2 linked regions of the Homo sapiens genome follow. The protein of the gene in region 2 purifies or fractionates together with the protein of the main gene of each other region. This does not show direct contact. Each region holds a gene or a part of one and is shown on either strand. Other genes may lie near its edges.

Region 1 (7,563 bases), on a different chromosome or scaffold from region 2:
CAGCCTCCCGAGTAGCTGGGATTATAAGCACCCGCCAAGGTGCCTGGCTAATTTTTGTATTTTTAGTAGATACAGGGTTTCACTTGGCCAGGCTGGTCTCGAACTCCTGACCTTAGGTGATCCACCCGCCTCAGCCTCCCAAAGTGCTGGGATTACAGGTGTGAGCCACTGCGCCTGGCCGGGGTATGTACTTTCAACATAGATCGCTTGGGGTGACATTCTCTGTGCCTCAGTTTCCTCCTCTGTAAGGGGAGATAATAGTACTTTTCTTAGAGGGTTGTTGTGAGGATTAAATGAGGTAATACATGGATTGCTTATGACCAAGCCGAGGAAATGTTTGACATGCATTAGTATTTTGTAGATTGTTCCCCGAATTTGTCCAATAATTGATTTAGCCCAGTGGTCCCCAAACTGTTCCATGATAGGAGTCGTCGGAGTGGCCAGGCGTGGTGGCTCACACCTGTAATCCTGGCACTTTGGGAGGCCAAGGTGGGTGGATCACTTGAGGTCAGGAGTTCAAGACCAGCTTGGCCAACATGGAGAAACCTGTTCTCTACTAAAAATACTGTAATCCCAGCTCCTCGGGGGGCTGAGGCAAGAGAATCTCTTGAACCTGGGAGGCGGAGGGTGCAGTGAGCCGAGATTGCGCCACTGCACTCCAGCCTGGGCGACAGAGTGAGACTCTGTCTCAAAAAAAAAAAAAAATCACCTGAGGAGGGCTCTTCCTAGAAAAATCGGACTCAGTGGGTCTGTATGGAGGCCCAGAAATCCTGTTTTTAATCAGCACTCCAGGCCGGGAGCGGTGGCTCACGCCTGTAATCCCAGCACTTTGGGAGGCCGAGGCAGGCAGATCACCTGAGGTTGGGAGTTTGAGACCAGTCTGACCAACATGCAGAAACCCCGTCTCTACTAAAAATACAAAAAAATTAGCCAGGCGTGGTGGCACATGCTTGTAATCCCAGCTACTCAGGAGGCTGAAGCAGGAGAATCGCTTGAACCCAGGAGGCGGAGGTTGTGGTGGGCGAGATCGTGCCACTGCACTCCAGCCTGGGCAACAAGAGCGAAACTCCATCTCCCAAAAAAAAATAAAAAATAAAATAAGCACTCCAGGCATTTCTTATCCTCAGGGAAGCTTAGAGAGTACCGTGTATCATACTCTGTGAAACCCATGGAAGCTCACATTGGCTCCCACCTCTCCACACACACTCCTGCTCCCAGACTGCACTTAAAAACACCTGCGCCTGGAGGTAGCAGCCGCCTGAGCTACAGAGGAGGGCTTGAGAAGAGGGGAGAAGTGGAGACTCAGGGGACCTGGTGGCAGAGAGTTTCAAGCTGGAAAGTCAAGCCTGGCTCAGTCCACACAGACCTGCTGCTCTGTGGATTTGAGCAAGTTAATGAACCTCTTGGGGCTGATCCCCCACCTAGGGGCTGCTGTGAGGGCGCAGTGAGATCTCGAGGCCCACACATAGGAGCTGATTTTAATAGAGGAGGGAAGTCTGATCCTACACAGATTCCTGAGGAAAGGGAGACAGCAGGGGGTGGAGAAGGGCTGGAAGGGGGTAGTGGGAGTCCAAGTTTTTGGCACCAAATCAAAGGCACCTGGGGGGTGGTGGGGCTGGGAGCCGGGGGCCAGCTGGCCTGTCTGTCTCCCTGACCTCTCCCTGTTGCCACAGACCTTGTGGCCTGAGGCTGGACTATAGGTGTTTCCAGTGGCTGTCCAAGTTCATGAAGGTGTTAGTGTTTATTGGTGAACTTGAGGATGTTTGCATCCTTGGGGGTTGTTTCTGCTATGGGAGAAAGGGGATTTGTCCACCTGGTTCAGGTGGGAATCTGAGCCCAATGGGTGACCCTTCCGAAGAAAACTCAGATGGTCCTCCTCTCCCAGCACTCCCAGCCTTGCACTCTCTTCCCCTCCACTGTAGGGGTGGGGTCCCCCGGTTGGAGAAAAGCCTGGGGGCTAGCTGGGTGCTGCCCCCAGCTCCTCACTGCGTCCTCCCACTGAATCCCGAGAGGCATGCGCTATAAACCCACTTTACAGAGGGGAAAATGAAGCCTGAGGCCACGGAGCAGTGATGCGCAGGGCAGGGGTTCAAGTCTCATGAGGCTGGTAAGCCTGTCTGCTCCTGTGTCTTCCAGGGTCTCCTGGACCAAAGCCCCAGCCCCACCTACCCCTGCGGCCCCCGCCCTTGGGAAGTGAGGGAACAGTGTGGGAATGGAGGCAGCCCACCGGAAGACCTGGTTCCTCCGGCTAGAGTGAGTGAGTGAGTGTGTGTGTGTGTGTGTGCGCGCGCGCGGGCGCGCCGCCCTTGTTGAGAGACTAAGGAAGTAGTTTGCCCTCTCTTAACCTCTGTTGGCCGCTCTGTAAACTGCGGGCACACTCTGGCCTTCTCAGGTGGTGGTGAGGCTTCCCTGAGCTCTCGCCTGCGAAGTGGTCAGCACGTCCCCGGCAAGGTTCCAAGTGTCCTTGTTTTGTGCATCACAGGGAGGGCAAAGCTCACCTCACGCGAAGCGCCATGAACATCACTTTTACATGGAAGCCCAGCACCCCTGGGTTCTCCCTAAGCCCCTCCTAAGCCCGCCCACTTCCCGCCACTTTCAGGCTGCAGCCTCCGATGGCCCTCGTTTCTGCTCTTTCTACCGCGTGATAGCGGCGCGAAGCCCACCCAGCCCTGGGGGCGGAGGCCCGGTCTCCCCGCCATGGCAGTAAACCCCACTCTGCCAGCACACTGGCGGGTGTGGAGGGAGGGAGAGCGGCTGATCCCCTGGTCCCTAGATGGTGCACACGCCAGGAAGGGCGGTAGGGATACGGCACAGGTGTGAGGGTGCAGACGCTCCCCACTACCCTTTCCACCCCTCCCCCGCGCCCTCCGCTGCCTCCCTCACCCGGGCACGGCTGTCGCAGCAACTGGACAACGGTGACATTGGTGAGGACGATGTCGCGCTTCGACATGGCCTCTTATAAGGTTATCATTGGCCTGGACCTGCTGTGATGTTACCGAGGTGCGTGCGGAGCGCCAGGGCTGTGGGTCCTGGGCTAATTGCCCTGATGTCACAGCACCCAGTGACGTCACAGTACCCAGTGACGTCGCCGAGGGGCGGCGCCCAAGCCAGAGGCCTGACACCATCGCATCCCATCCCCGTAGAGGCATGGGACGTCAGCACGCTATGCATCACCGTTCCACGGCCACGCACTGCCGTCTGGAATGGAATCCCACTTTTTAAAATTATCATTTGTTTATTTATTTTGAGACGGGGTGTCACTCTTTCTCCTAGGCTGGAGTGCAGTGGTGCAATCATGGCTCACTGCAGCCTTGAACTCCTGGGCTCAAGCGATCCTCCCGCCTCGGCCTCCTGAGTAGCTGGGACTACATGTGCAGCCACCACTGCAGGCTATTTTTACTTTTTATTTTTTTGTAGAGAGAGGGTCTCACTCTTTTGCTCAGGCTGGTCTAGAACCCTTGGGCTCAAGCGATCCTCCCACCTCGGCCTTCCAAAATGCTGGGATTACAGGAGCGAGCCACCACACCCAGCCTGGAATCCCACCTTTTACACTGTTCCTGAAAGCCCTTTCCTCTTCTCTGTCTCTTGAAGCACACAGGTTCCATGCTGTCCCTTGGATTCTCCAGTGGAGTGACTCTTGCTGCCTCCGTATGCCTGGAAGGCCCACCCAGGGCTTCCCTTGGCTGCCTCTTGGTTTCCCACCCTTTAAGAGAGGCTTTCTACACTCTGCATCTAAGTTCCCTCCTTTCTCTGTCACTGTCAGCCGTCACCCCCTTCCCAATTTCTGCCCATCTTCCAGGAAGCCTTGTCTGACTTCTCCATTCTGAGTTATGCTTCAGTGTGCAAAATTTCTCTAGGGCTACACTGTCTATGTTTTTATTTTCCTTAGAGCACATGTCTCTCTAAAAATTGTTTGTTTTCTTGCCAACTGTCTCTGTCCACCAGACTGTAAGCTCTGAGAGGACAGGGACGTCATCTATGTCACTTCTGTATCCCATTGACAAGAAAAGTGTTTGGCACCTGAAAGGTGTTTGTGGGCTGGACGCAGTGGCTCATGCCTGTAATCCCAACACTTTGGGAGGCTGAGGTGGGAGGATCATTTGAGTCCAGGAGTTTGAGACCAACATGGGCAATGTGGCAAAACCCTGTATCTACAAAAAATAAAAAAAGTAGCCAGGTGTGGTGGTGCATGCCTGTTGTCCCAATTATTAGGGAGGCTGAGGTGGGAGGATCACTTGAGCCTAGGAGGTCAAGGCTGCAGTGAGCTGTGATTGTGTCACTGCACTCCAGCTGGGAGACAGAGCAAGACCCTGTCTGAAAAAGGCGTTAGCCCAATAAACTATACCTGAATGAATAAATGTCAATTCCTCAGGTTTCATCTGATCGCTAATCTTTTCTTTTCTTTTCTTTTTTTTGAGACAGAGTTTCGCTCTTGTTGCCTAGGCTGGAGTGCAATGGTGCGATCTCAGCTCACCGCAACCTCCGCCTCCTGGGTTCAAGTGATTCTCCCGCCTCAGCCTCCTGAGTAGCTGGGACTACAGGCGTGCGCCACTACACCTAGCTAATTTTTTTTTTGTTTTTGTATTTTTAGTAGAGACGGGGTTTCACCATGTTGGCCAGGCTGATCTCAAACTCCTGACCTCAGGTGATCCATCTGCCTCGGCCTCCCAAAGTGGTGGGATTACAGGCGTGAACCACCTCGCCCGGCCCTGATCGCCAATCTTATCAAACTCTTCACGTTATATCTTCTCGCAGCACCCATTCTTTTCCTTGTAGCTTTTCATGTAGTTTGTCATGATCTACTGATTGGTTTATTTGTTCGATGTCTCCCCCTTGGGCTCTAAGCCCCTCACAGGGCTCCTGTTCTTGTTTGTTTGTTCACGACTGTGCCTCCAGCACTTAGAACAATACAAAGCAGGTTTTCAATGAACGTCTGACAAAGAACAAGTGGACAAACAGCTCCCTCCCCTGCAGCCCCGGGGTAGGGGTTTGCTTGCACCTCAGTGACTCACAGGCAGGCACCATCACCTGCACAGCAGGTTGACACGCAGCTGTGACCAAGGTTCAGGGGGAGTGGGGGTTTGTGCCAGGAAGGAGTCACCATCCCAGAGAGGGATGGATGCAAGAAGGGGCAGAATGACATAACCTCTTCCTTCCGCCAACATCCATGAGAAATTCATTTGCCAAGCACCTGCCATGGGACCAGGGCAGGGTGAGGCTCTCCTGCTTTGATGGCCTGGGAGAAGAAAGTAAACTAAGTGTACAGGTGAGGAGGTTTTAACGAACCGAGACCAAAACACAGATGATTAATTAAACAAAGGGAGCTACATTTTGGTGTACAATCAAGGAGGTGAAAAATATAACCTCAACAAAACCAGGATTCAAAAGGGGCTGATTTTGGCTGGGTGCAGTGGCTCACACATGTAATCCCAGCACTTTGGGAGGCCGAGGCAGGTAGACCACCTGAGGTCAGGAGTTTGAGACCAGCCTGGCCAACATGGTGAAACTCCATCTCTACTAAAAATACAAAAATTAGCCAGGTGTAGTGGCATGCATCTGTAATCCTAGCTACTCGGGAGGCTGAGGCAGGCGAATCACTTGAACCTGGGAGGCGGAGGTTGCAGTGAGCCGAGATTGCCACTGCACTCCAACCTGGGCAACAGAGTGATACTTCATAAAAAAAATAAATAAAATAAAGAAAGGACAACTCCAGGCCATTCTCAGTTATGGAGCCAGATGCTGAAGTCCTGAATCGAATCGTGCCACATGGGAATAGAGAGACAGAGGAGAGGGACTGAGGCTGGCAGAAGATGAAAGGATGGGGTGGAGAGGGATAGAGAAGATGGAACACAGTTCAGGCCAGGCACAGTGGCTCACGCCTGTAATCCCTGCCCTTGGGGAGGCCGAGGTGGGCGGATCACCTGAGGTCAGGGGTTCGAGACCAGCCTGGCCAACATGGTGAAACCCCGTCTCTACTGAAAGTACAAAAATTAGCTGGGCATCATGGCAGGTGCCCGGCTAATCCCAGCTACTCGGGAGGCTGAGGCAGAAGAATCACTTGAACCCGGGAGGCGGAGGTTGCAGTGAGCCGAGATCATGCCACTGCATGCCAGCCTGGGGGATAGAGTGAGACTCTCCCTCCAAAAACACAAAAAGAAGATGGAACACAGTTCAAAGTGGGAGAAATCCCACCTCTTGATCTCTGGGTGGGTTAGGATTCTGACACTCATCACCCACTCTTCTCTGCCCAGCCACCTCCTGGTATGGGAAACTCCATCATTTCGGCCCTGGACCAGGGCAGAAAAACCACACCTGAGTTTGCCCAGGAATTTGGCTTTGTCCCTGGAGTGTGAAACCGGGAAACAGATTTGATGAGCTCAAGCTTGGAGAGGTGGCACACTTAGTCACCCTCTATAGGCAGAGCCCAGAGAAGGCAGAAGCTTCTGGATATCTGTCCTGGGATGCCTGTCTTTGGGTGGAGTCAAGTGTCCAGGAGCTGGAGAGGAACCCCGGGTCCTCTGAGGGGAGTGGGCCTTGGCGCCTTTGTTTGAGCAAAGCCTGAAAACACGTGCAGATTCTCGCCACACCTGGGCACCCACACACATAGCTCTGCCACCTCCAGCTGCTCACACCCTGCACATTGTTCCTGCCTGGCCTTCCCACCAGCAATCCCACCTCCACCCCTCTCTCAGTCTCTCCCCTTGGCACCAAAACCCAAATATCTTTCACCCCTGCACCTACTGTACCCACCCACTGGCTCTCGTTCTGGTCTTAGCCTCCCTCCCAACTGGCTTCTAGATGCATCTGCTGCCCCAAGCCTGCCCACCACCACCTGCCCTTCCTTCCGATGCCCTTTTCATGCCTGAGGCCAGACTCTCAGCTGTTTCCCCTCCAACCCGAGCCAATATGTCAACACTTGGGGCTTCAGGTTGGGGCTTAGGAGGCCCCATGTCGGGAGGGCAGGAAGGATGAGGGCCTGGCCCCAGCCCAGGTTCTGGCTCACAGGCTCCTGCTGCCCTGGGTCTTCGGCCCCTCCCCGTGGCTGCCTCAACCGGCTTTTCAGGAGACACTGCGTCCTGTTCCAGCTCGTGGCAATCAGCCCCCTGCCCTTGCCCAAGGGCTGGGAGGCAGGAGGTCTGGGTTCTGCGACAGGAATGGGATCCTGCCTCCAAAATCTGCGGCACTCCACAAGGGACTCTATGCTGCCCTGGCGACCCAGGCGCCCTTCCCTCCAGCACCCTGTGAGACCCAGACTCGGGCTCGGAGTCTCTTTCCTTGGCCTGTTCGAATCCATCCATTTGTCCAGTCAATAAATATTTACTGAACCCCAGGCAGTGTTCAAGAAGCTAGGAATACAGCAGTGATCAACACGACCAATTTACATTGCTAGTAGGTGAGACAGGCAATAAAAAATAAAGGTAATTTCAGATTTTTTTTTTCTGTGAAAACAAAAGGGTGATACTACAGAGTATAATTAATGCCATGTTATGGTCAGGAGAGGTTTTCTTGCGAAGTTGGCATTTAAGTCAAGTACGGATGAGGAGGAGCCAGCCACGTGAAGAT
Region 2 (4,627 bases):
TGACCTCTTTGGGCTCAAGCAATCCTTCCACCTCAGCCTCCTATGTAGCTGGGACCTGAGGCATGTGCCACTACACCCAGCTAATTTTTTGATTTTTTTTGTGGAGACAGGGTTTTGCCATGTTGCCCCAGGCTGGTCTCTAACTCCTGGGCTCAAGTGATCCTCCCACCTCAGCTGCTTAAAGTGCTGATATTACAGGCCTGAGCCATCATGCCCATCACCAATTATCACATTTTTAGAAATTTTGCATCCTAGTTACTAAACCAGTGGTAGATTGAAATTGACCATGAGGGAGCATGAGCATTTACATTGAGCTGGCAAATGCTGTATGTCAGGATTCCTCCTCCAGAGTCTGCTATTAAACATGTACCAGCCACCATTATATATATGCTAGATACACTGCAGTTATTAAGAATTATATATATGTACACGTATATATACTATTGATACAGTGTAATTGTTAAACATTTAAAAAAATGAAATACAACTTTCAGGGCACATTTCAGCCAAATTCATATTTATTCCAGTCTCTAACACTCTGTTGTTATGTCTGCTGTAAGATGATCAGGAGTTAGTATGAAGTATTCTTCTCTACGCACCAAAGAAAACAAACAAAGCAAACTTCAAGTCAGTGAATTAGTTACCACAGTTAAAATGCATTTGATTTTGTCCTTTTCCTTTTTCACAAGAACGACAGCTGAATACTCTTTCATGTGATGCCTGATATTTTTCTTTTTCTTTTTCTCTCTTTTTTGAGACAGGGTCTTTAAGATGGGGTCTCGCTCTGTTGCCCAGGTTGGAGTGCAGTGGTGCAATCTTGGCTCATTGCAACCTCAGCCTCCTGTTTTCAAGTGATTCTTCTGACTCAGCCTCCCAGGTAGCTGGGATTACAGGCATGTGCCACCGTGCCCGGCTAATTTTTGTATTTTTAGTAGAGATGGGGGTTTCACCATGTTGGCCAGGATGGTCTCGAACTCCTGACCTGAAGTGATCCACCCGCCTCGGCCTCCCAAAGTGCTGGGATTACCGGTGTGAGCCACTGTGCCAGGCTCTGATGTTGATATTTTTCTGTTACAGTCCTTAGCCCAGGCATCCTGTAGCACTCTGTGTCCCAGACTTTTTGATGCAGAAACAAGACTGAAGGAAGATTGTCCAATATAGGAAAGATTCAACTTTTCCTCTATGTGTTTGTCCGCTGGTATTCCTATGAGGCATTTGAGTTACAGGTAGCAGCACATCAGCAAATGACTCCGCTCCCTCTCTCAGCACACATAGCCTAATTGTTACAGAACCCCGAAGGGACACCTGAATGTCCTTTCTTTCAAGGCAATATGTATGACACGCTTTCAAATCTCCTCCTGCCTACTCTGCTTACCTAAAGGGCAAGGGGAGAAAATCCAGCACTGACATAGAGTCTGTAGGTTGAATAAGGCAGCCAAGATTAGAGAGATGTAAGTGAAGAAACCCACTTTATCTGGCTTTGGAGAGAGCTAGTGACTTAAGGCAGGATGTTCATCTGTATCATGTTGACTGGGACAGTCCTGGTTGTTCCCAGTGCAGCTCCATTATCATCCATCTGGCAGTGGGGAGTCTCTGCTGCCCATGTGGTGCTGGCATATGCAGTTCTGCTCATGCTCCTAACGTGAATGCATAAAACACCCCTGCAGTGCCACAGCACTGCTATGAGTTCATGGAAGGCGTAGGTGAGGATACAAGGCAAGAGTGCTCTGGCACCAACACTTGGAGGGGCCACCTGAGCATAAGTTTTCTTAGAGGCTCAGAATTCAAATTGCTAATAGGCTCTTGGAGCAAAATTGCAAAGGACAGATAGGCTTGTTGGTGGCTTCTGTTTTCTTCGCTAACAATCCAGGTTAGTTCTGATTTCCTTCCTGGTCACTTAAAACACCTTAGTAAGTGTGTTAATTGACTTTTAGAGTTGCAAAGGGCTTTTTATTCCATTCAACCCCTGTTCAATTTACAGGTGAGGAAACTGAAATAAGGTACTTAAGTGACTTGCCTAAAGTCACGCAGCTGGCGAGAGGTAGGAGCAGGCTTTCTGACACACTCATCTGGCATTCTTGAGGCTATCCCTACAAATCCTCTTGACCTCTGGTAGAAATTCCACCTCCACCAAATATCTTTCTAAATACATTCATAGCTGGGTGGCTGGATATGGACTCTGAAGCAGAAGATGCTTCATGAAATATTTTTGGTTTATCTAATAACTTTGGTCCAAATACGTATACAGAACTATATACTGAGGTAGCATTACTGAATTTGCCATACGAAACATCTTCACTTTCATCCATCAGGTCAGAATTTGGGAGTCAAGTCACAGACTACTTAAATTGGGTCTTTTTCTTCTTAGACAAATTTATACGACTTTTTTACATTTTTGGCCATCTTCCTATTTAATTCTTTTATGCGATGAATGTATATTTCATGAGGCAATAATTAACCTTCACCAACTTGGCAGGTTGCTTTGTTAGTCAATTATAAGGCTAACAAAATATAAAGGTCATGACTTTGGGAGAAGAAATGCCTTGTGACTCTAAGAGGTTCAGTGACTGCTGATCTACACTTTAGGACTTGTATGATCACCCCCTTTTTATACTAGAATTTAGGCTGTTTGGAGTTGACTTTTACTATTTCAGCTATCAGAATGATGCAGCATTGAATTCCTCCCAAGTGGCTAATCTAGTACGAATACATTAGCAACCCAAATCAGCCTATAAGGAATCAAGTTAAATGATCTTATACTCATGTCCTTTTTTCTACACTTGGGATTTTCACGCAAAAATAAAGACTGACTTACTTGGTAATATTATGATTACAGAATTTGAGTTGCTTCTAAAAAATAATGCAGAGAGAAATACTGAAAATGATGAAGACTTTTTCAAATGTTATAATACGGTCATTTATAAATGACTATTTATATATGTCAGTTACATACATAGTGACAGTTATAGTAAAACACTAGGAACCTGTACTTAAAAAGAAAAAACAAAATCCTGTACACAAAACAAGCATACATATATAAGGATTTGAATCTATGTATATATATTTTACATTTTTCAACATTTGTGTTTTATTCCATTAACATAACCATTTACAGTTATTCCAGAAATTTCAGTCATACACAGTGCTCTTGAATCCAAAGAGTGGTCTAGTGTGTTGGCATTTTCATCAAGTACAGTCCTAGAAAATGTCAAGTTGAACAATAAGATATTGAGGCACATTGGTCACTGTGTATTCTGAATTCTTTAGTATGGTCAGAGGAAGTAGTTAATATATTTCATGTTGATTCTTTGGCTACTCTTGATTTTTGCTTTGGGTAACATCCTCATCCTGGGAACATTCATTACCACTTAATAGCAAGATAACATTAAAAAAAAATCCTTCATTGCCACATTTAATAGCATGTTTAAAAAGGCAGAGGTTGCAATGAGCTGAGAACGCACTACTGCACTCCAGCCTGGGTGACAGAGTGAGACACTGTCTCCAAAAAAAAAATGTTTAAAATGAGACCAAACCCTCATGGAGACATTTCTCTGTTCTATTAGAAACGCAATGGCATTCTCATAGATCCTCTTTCTTTTTTATGATCACTTGTCTAACCAGAGCTGCTATGTCAGGCCTGATGACTTCAATGGGCTCCTCTGGCTTCCAGAACTTCACAACTTGACCCTCAGGGTTGACAAGATACTTCCAAAAATTCCACCTTGGTTCCTTCTTTGAAGAATCTAAAATATCCAGAACATATTTTCATGAGCATAATTTTATTCTTTGTCAAGATTTTCACTTCTATTAGTATCTGCATAAATGATAACTTTAGTATCAAGTTCTAGGACTGTCATAATATAAAAAACAAAACACCCAAACGAAGTGAAACTCAAGGTTAGAGTAACCAGATTTCAATATACTTGATGACTTCACCTATGAGTCTACTCATCTAGTATGTGATCTTAGTATCAAGAAATGAAGCAAAGTAGGCTGGGAGCCGTGGCTCAGTCTGTAATCCCAGCACTTTGGGAGGCTGAGGCGGGTGGATCACCTAAGATCAGGAGTTTAAGACCAGCCTGCCCAACACGGTGAAACCCCATCTCTACTAAAAATACAAAAAATTAGCCGGGTGTGGTGGTGTGCACCTGTAATCCCAGCTACTCGGGAGGCTGAGACAGTAGAATCATTTGAACCTGGGAGGTGGAGGTTGCAGTGAGCTGAGACCACACCACTGCCCTCCAGCCTGGGGGACAAGAGTGAAACTCTGTGTCAAATAAAATTAAAAGCCAAAAAAAATGAAGCAAAGTTGTAATCCCAAATTGCTGGGATTACAGGTGTGTGCCACCACACCAGGCAAATTTTTGTATTTTGAGTAGAGATAGGGTTTTGGCCTCCCAAAGTGAATAATCACCTTATTTTGAAAAGCAATAACTTTTTTTTTGGCAGGGTCTCGCTGTGTTGCCCGGGATGGGCTTGAACTCCTGGGCACTAAAGTGATCCTCCTGTCTTGGCCTCCCAAAGTGCTGGGATTACATGCATGAGCTACCATGCCCAGCCATGATATCCTTTTGATAAATCTTAATTTATGTAAGAAATGTAGATTTTTTTTCTATTTATACCACTC

The links.
Region 1: the proteins of GPX8 (region 2) and GAPDHS purify together in Homo sapiens (affinity purification with mass spectrometry; 3 studies listed by BioGRID and IntAct, with this or other methods). This does not show direct contact.

The regions. Positions count from the first base shown.
Region 1 is NC_000019.10:35,528,915-35,536,477, reverse strand, and holds the start of GAPDHS (glyceraldehyde-3-phosphate dehydrogenase, testis-specific), read right to left. Parts: upstream 3,023-7,563; 5' UTR 2,951-3,022; coding exon 2,884-2,950; intron 1-2,883. UniProt on the Homo sapiens protein: May play an important role in regulating the switch between different pathways for energy production during spermiogenesis and in the spermatozoon. Required for sperm motility and male fertility.
Region 2 is NC_000005.10:55,163,171-55,167,797, reverse strand, and holds the end of GPX8 (probable glutathione peroxidase 8), read right to left. Parts: intron 3,744-4,627; coding exon 3,580-3,743; 3' UTR 501-3,579; downstream 1-500.